Linked DNA regions of Homo sapiens. The protein of the gene in region 1 purifies or fractionates together with the protein of each later gene. This does not show direct contact. Each region holds a gene or a part of one and is shown in the gene's direction. Other genes may lie near its edges.

Region 1 (4,166 bases):
AGCGTGAGCCACTGCGCCCGGCAGAACTTTCTTATATTTAAATGTCTATCTTCACAAAATAGTACCAGTGAGCTTGTTCATCTGCTTATGTCTTTATTGGCCAAATAAATAGCCACGGTGCAAAATCTCTGTGGTCACTACTGTGTTCCCAGCATGTCCTGTAGATGAAGCCGGACAATGTGTGCAATGAGGAATCATTGCTGGGGATGCTGCTTTCTACAATAGAACTCTAAGTAGCAGGTGAAAACAATGAGCGAGGCCCGTGGTAACAATGTCTACGTTTTATTGAATTTTGAAATTGGTTGCATGAGTCATTTCTTTTTCTTTTTTTTTGGGAGGGGGCCGGAGTCTCCCTCTGTCACCCAGGCTGCACTGCAACCTCTGCCTCTCAGGTTCAAGTGATTCTCTTGTCTCAACCTCCCAAGTAGCTGGGATTACAGGTGCCTGCCACCAGGCCCGGCTATTCTTTTTGTAGTTTTAGTAGAGACGGCGTTCTGCCATGTTAGCCAGGCTGGTCTCAAACTCCTGACCTCAGGCGATCTGCCCGCCTCGGCCTCCCAAAGTGCTAGGATTACAGGCGTGAGTCACCGCGCCCAGCCTTGCATGAGTCATTTTTAGCTCCCTGGATCATGAGCCTTGTCAATCTCCTTGACCCCTGAACCCATGTGGGTCCTGCTATGAGGAGATGAGGGCAGCCAGGGGTCTGACACAGCAGATGCATCTCTGAGGGACCTGACTTGTGTGAACCAAGGTAATGGGTCCCCTGCATACATCAGTAGCAGTCCATGGAAATGTCCATCAGACCTGTGTCCCCTCCTGGTTGGGGGAGCAGGAAACTTCAAGAATGACTAGTAGGGGCCAGAGTGGCCTCAAAGGACCAAAGAGGAGGCTGTGGGGTCATCCAGGAGAGAGGGATGGTGACTGGACAAGGCGGGCAGCCCGGGAGCCGGGAGGAGTGGGTAGACTCGCTGGCATTGATCATGTGGGGCCCCAGCCCTGGGAAGGAATAAGGATGACTCCTGGGGGCTGGCTGGCGGTGCCTCTCCTGAGATGGGGACCCCAACCACAGGTCATGATGTTGACTCCCCCGATCCCATGTGGAATACCACCTCGCCTGGGCTAGGGCCCATGAGGGTGAAACCAAGGCTGTGTTGTCCACTGAGGTTCCCCAGCTCCTAGCACAGCTCAGCAGGCAGTACCTGATCAGTGATGAGGGATTAATCCACCATTCAACTCCTCCAGGGGGCGGGACTGCAGGGCAGGGTGGGAAACGGAGGGTCCTGGCAGGGTGGGCCAGGGTGGGCACAGCAGAGAAGTGATTTAAGAGCCAAGCCCTTGTCAGTACACACTTGTGTTTGGGAACAGATCAGGACTCAGGATGCAAGACCCTGGTCATCTCCAAGGTGAGCAGGGACAGAGGTGTGAGGGGCCTGGGCTGATCCTGTGGCTGAGGCTGCAGAGTGCAAATCTGGGCAGCCAGAGAAGGGCTGGGCCTGTGCGGGCGGCTTCCTGTCCTGCAGACGGGGGAGAACTTAGTGGTGTCTGGGAAATGAAAAATCATGCAGCTGGGCGCAGAGTCTCACGCCTGTGATCCCAGCTCTTTGGGAAGCCAAGGTGGGAGGATCACTTGAGCCCGGGACTCTGAAACCAGCCGAGCCAACATAGTGGAGACCCGTCTTTAGCAAAAATACAAAAATTACCCAGGGGTCGTGGTGCACACCTGTGGTCCCAGCTACTCGGGAGACTAAGGCGGGGGGTTCCTTGAGCCCAGGAAGTGGAGGCTGACTTGAGCCGTGATCACATCACTGCACTCCAGCCTGGGTGACAGAGCGAGATCCCCTCCAAGAAAAAGAAAGAAGGAAAGAAATTAAACCATGCAGTTGAGTGGAGCAGAGGACTGGGCAGGTGGCGGCTCCCCTGCAAGTGTCAGGGTCCCTATAACCCTTGGATGGGAGGGGACGGGGCAGCTGGGGAGGGCTGAGCAGGCCTGAGGCAGCCCCGTCTGCTCCGAGGTGAGGCGCCTACGCTGCCTGCCTTCCCAGGAGCTGTTATCGCGCCCATTTCCTAGATGTGGACCCTGAGGCCCAGAGAGGTGCAAGGTCTGGTCTGGATACCAGGCTGCTATCCGCGGTGCCGCCCCAGCCCACACTGCCTGGGCTCCTGGCCTGGCGCAGGGGACGGGGTCCCTAGGGGGGCTGGGGGCTGCCTGGGGGTTTCTGTGACCTGTTTCCCTCCCACCCCCAGGCCCTCCCCTGGCCCTGGACCCTCCAAGGAGACAGCGGCAGGAGCGCACGGTCTACACTGAAAGCCAGCAGAAAGTGCTAGAATTTTACTTTCAGAAGGACCAGTACCCGAACTACGACCAGCGACTGAATCTGGCGGAGATGCTCAGCCTCAGGGAGCAACAGCTGCAGGTCTGACCCCCACCCCCACCCCGCCCGCCCCAGTCACCCCAAGGAGCCTCCCCACCGCTGTCACTCACCGGGGCCTGGCCCGCCCGACCACCTCCCGCCCTGCCACGCAAGGGGTCCCGCCAGTGTAGACCCGGGCTGCATCCTGAGTCCTGTTCCAACTCTATGCTAGCCCAAACTCGCCCACATGATCGGCCCAGGCTGTCCCCCACGGGGTCTCCCGGTGCCCGGACCTCAGGCACCCGTGAGAACCCGCGGTCCCTCCCCTGGAACCCTCCCTGGCCCCCCGGGCACCTGGGCGGCAGACCCGGCTCCTCCCCTCCCACCCCACCCTCCTCCCCCTACTTTCCCCTCCCTCTTCCCTCCCTTCTCCAGGCCTGGGAGCCGGGGGCCCTCATATGGTGGGTGCGGGGTGGGGGTGAACACCGGGAGAGTTTTGAGGCCGGCGCCGCCCCCGAGCGGCTCACCCGGGCCGCGCGAGTCCCTCCTTCACACCTTCTCCCTGTCCCCTCTGCCCCCCAGGTGTGGTTCAAGAATCGCCGCGCCAAACTAGCTCGGGAGCGGCGGCTCCAGCAGCAGCCCCAGCGCGTCCCTGGGCAGAGAGGCCGAGGAGCCCGCGCTGCGCCCCTAGTCCCTGTAGCCGCTGCCTCCTTCCCTGGGGGTCCTGAGTTCCCGCAGGGCAGGGGTTCCTGGATCTCCCCTCAGCCGGGCCCCTGGGGAGTCCTCCCAGCAGCAGAACCGAAGATCTACAGCCTCCCCCGGACCTGGGGTGGCCCTGAGTGTGGAACACAGGAGGGCCTCAAGGCTGTCCCGGCTCCAGGCCCTGGCCCAATCCCAGCCCCTATCCCAGGCCCAGCCCAGATCCCAGGCCCAGTCCCAGGCCCAGCCCCGAATTTAGGCCCAATGTCAGGCCCACTGTCAGTCTCGATCCCCGGTCCAATACCAGCCCCCATCTCTTGCCCAGGCCCAATCCCAGACCCAGTCCTAGGCCGAACCCTGATGCCAGGCCCAGGATCACTCCCAACCCCAGCCCCAGGCGCCTTGTGGCCTCAGAGCCCCTATGCCTCCAACTTGTCGCCAGACACCCAGTTATACCCTGACTTCACCAAGCTGCTCCCGCTCCTAGACCGGTTCGAGGAATCCTCACTCTCCACCACGACGTCTCAGTACAAAGAGGAGGATGGCTTCGTGGACAAAAATCACTCAGTCCCCAGGTCATTACTGGATTTATAGGGGGCCTGTGCCTGCAAAGTTCTTCAGATCCCAGAGGGCCTGGAGTGGCTGATCTACACTGCTGGTGACTTTCTGCAGTGAATGCATCACCCTTTACCCACCCTGCTGCAGGTGGACATTTGCTGTCTTCACTGTGCAGCCATCACAGGTGGCTCTGCTGTGAATGTGCCTGCCTGTCATTTGAATTGAGCCTGAGCGTTTCTCTGCTGAGACTGGAGTCGCTGCTCACTGGGATGTTTGGCATTAGTGGATGCCGCTTGAGAGCTTTGTTAAGGGCTTTTCCCAGCCCTCCTTCTGGTCAATGTCCTCCCCAACACTGAGGCTTGTGAGACTTTTTAATGTTTGTCGATCCAGTGACTTGTGGTTTTGTTGTGGTTGTAATATCCATTTCCCTGATGATTGAGAGATTGAGAAATTCTCATATGGGTATTAGGCATTTTCAAATAGTGACTATTTTTCGTTTTTTTTTTTGAATATTTTCTCATTTTTATTAAATAGTGACTATTCATGGTCTTTTTGGCC
Region 2 (2,683 bases), on another chromosome or scaffold:
AGACAGAGGGGTTCAAATGTTTCCAGTTTCCTAAAGGTTTTGACACTTGGTTCATCTGCGTTAGATCACTTGCCCTGTGGACCTCCCCACAGTCTGGACTTGGCTGATTACTTCCCCCCATTCTTGCTATTTCCCCACTTTTCACATTGCGTCTTCCCTTCCTAAGTGTATCAGGCGGAATAATGAGTGAGCCTGTCTTGCTCCTTGTAGATCTTCTCCCTGGGGTACTGCCCCACCGGGGAGTGGCTGGCAGTGGGCATGGAGAGCAGCAATGTGGAGGTGCTGCACGTGAACAAGCCTGACAAGTACCAGCTGCACCTGCATGAGAGCTGCGTGCTGTCCCTGAAATTTGCTTACTGTGGTGAGTTCAGCCGAAAGGAAACTGGAGGCCGTTGATGGCCCAAATGGAAAATGCTTCTTAAAAAAATATGGTAGAGATCATAATCTGGAAAAAATGTTCTCCGAGCAGCTGGATGCAATAATTCTATTGTTTTAATATGCCCTTCAGAGCACAGCAATGTCTGTTTCAGTCTGTTTTGCTAATTTGAGAAAAGTCAGCAGGCAATGTGATTGCCTAATACACGGTTTGGACACAAGTTTGTTTTGGAGGGGTTGGGAGACGACAATGAGTTTCTACTCTGAAGAGGGGTGGGCGGGAATTTATTGAAGAATGGAGCAGGGGCAGTGGAAGTCATTATGAGCTGGCCATGATGAGGAATCCAGGGTTAGAGAAGTCGATATTTAGGTATACGCAGACACTTAGTTACACTCTACTCTACAGTGAGGATGAAGAGGGAAGAAGTTCATGTGGTGACCCTTCTTGTGTGCTGCAGATGGGCAGATATCTGTTCACAGTATGCATAGATGGATGGATGGATGGATGGATGGATGGATGGATGGGTGGATGAGTGCCTATCACTTATTGAGCATTTTTCTTCATGCTATATGATGTGACTGGCATTTTACTTAAGTTGGATGTTTAATCCTTTAATTCCCATTAAAGATGGGAATCTTTAATCCCATTTTATCATGAGGAGACTGACTAAAATAGAACACATTCTTCATTGATTTCTATATTTGAGGGTTACCGTGTGTTGGATATGATGCTACTAGTCCTGTATCCAGTGACTAAGGAGGCTGATACCTCTTAGATTATACCCAAGATCACTGATAAATCACTGAGGAGCCCAGATTAAAACCTCTGTTCATATCATGGACCAGTCCTTAGGGCATGATAGTTCATATATTAAAAATGTTCTTAGTTTGATTAAGTCCAAGTTGCTAATTGTATAGTAGGAATTTTAACCTTGTGAAAACTAGATATTCCTTTGCTAATTCTAGGTAAATGGTTTGTGAGTACTGGAAAAGATAACCTCCTCAATGCTTGGCGGACCCCCTATGGAGCCAGCATATTCCAGGTGAGTAAGTACTCCTCACCTAGATCCACAGTTTGACCACAGTGTCGCCTCTGAAGCCAGGAGTGAAGGTGCCTCCGAGGGAGCAGGGCCTCTGAGTACCGTTGTTCCACATTAAACACATGTCCATTGTTTTCTCTTCCAGTCCAAAGAGTCCTCGTCAGTGCTTAGCTGTGACATCTCTGTGGATGATAAGTACATAGTCACTGGCTCGGGGGACAAGAAGGCTACAGTCTATGAAGTCATCTACTGAAAACATTATGTGGTTTAACGTTTATAGTTGAATTGGGCCAAAATGTTTCGAATTTATAGAAATAGAAAAGTTGTAACTTTAAAAGAGAAAAAAAATTACAAACACCTGTTTCCAAACCTTGACAGAAAACTACTTTGAGTCTACAAAGAGGAGGCGACAAGTCCATCAGCAGAAAGTCACCTGTCTACATAGACCAAATGGAGCACCAAGGCCAAGCGGACAGAGGGGCCATGGGTTGTAGGATTGAGGAACGGAATCTGCCGACTCACATGACAGCCCATTCTTTCTTTCTGGGTGATCTGGGGATCACGCCTTGCCCAAGTGTGAGATTACCTTTCTGTTCCTTGCAGTTCACCTCACTTTCCGTCCTTTGTAGAGCAGTGGTGTCTCCAATGAACTTGTTTCCTGGTTTTGCATCTTGTGAAATGTTTTTTTGTATTTTTGTTGAAGGTTAAACATTTGTATAAATTGTAAATATATTTGGTTTATTACAGTAAAGGCTTTAGTACCAATAAGTGGTTTTCCTTTTCTTTCTTTATTGTTTTTTATTAAAGCTTTGGGATCATCAATGTGGGTTTTATAAGCAAAGATTATACATTTGTAGAGGAAGTTTTGAATTGCACTGCTTATTTTATAAATATATTTGGTGGTAGGCTCCCATTGCATTAGAACCTAATCCTTCACAAGCTTGAGTTACTGGGAGCTCAAGACTAGGAATTGTGAGTAATTGAAGGTTTACTAATGACAGTTTTCTTTAGGAAAGTAAAATTACTTCATCAAGATTTGTTCTTTTGTTATGATACTATTGTGATTCAAGGTCAAAGATTAAAGCTCTACTTTTTTCTGGTGATTCATTGGAAGGCAAAATATTCCTTTTTCTAGGAAGGCCCAATCTCCTCTTCCTTTTCCCTTTCTCTTTCCCTTTCTCTCTTTCTTTCGTTCTCTCTCTCTCTCTCCTTTTTTTTTTTTTTTTTTTTTGTTTAAAGATTTGAGTTCACATTGTTTGTTACCCAGG

What was found.
Region 2: the proteins of TPRX2 (region 1) and TLE1 purify together in Homo sapiens (affinity purification with mass spectrometry, with the first as the bait; one large-scale study listed by BioGRID). This does not show direct contact.

Annotation. Positions count from the first base shown.
Region 1 is NC_000019.10:47,857,869-47,862,034, forward strand, and holds TPRX2 (tetrapeptide repeat homeobox protein 2), read left to right. Parts: upstream 1-1,366; 5' UTR 1,367-1,378; coding exon 1,379-1,403; intron 1,404-2,244; coding exon 2,245-2,414; intron 2,415-2,933; coding exon 2,934-3,644; coding exon of another isoform or gene 3,645-3,696; 3' UTR 3,697-3,853; downstream 3,854-4,166. UniProt on the Homo sapiens protein: Transcription factor expressed after fertilization required for zygotic genome activation (ZGA), a critical event in early embryonic development during which the developmental control passes from maternally provided mRNAs to the expression of the zygotic genome after fertilization.
Region 2 is NC_000009.12:81,583,183-81,585,865, reverse strand, and holds the end of TLE1 (transducin-like enhancer protein 1), read left to right. Parts: intron 1-210; coding exon 211-361; intron 362-1,341; coding exon 1,342-1,418; intron 1,419-1,560; coding exon 1,561-1,668; 3' UTR 1,669-2,183; downstream 2,184-2,683. UniProt on the Homo sapiens protein: Transcriptional corepressor that binds to a number of transcription factors. Inhibits NF-kappa-B-regulated gene expression. Inhibits the transcriptional activation mediated by FOXA2, and by CTNNB1 and TCF family members in Wnt signaling.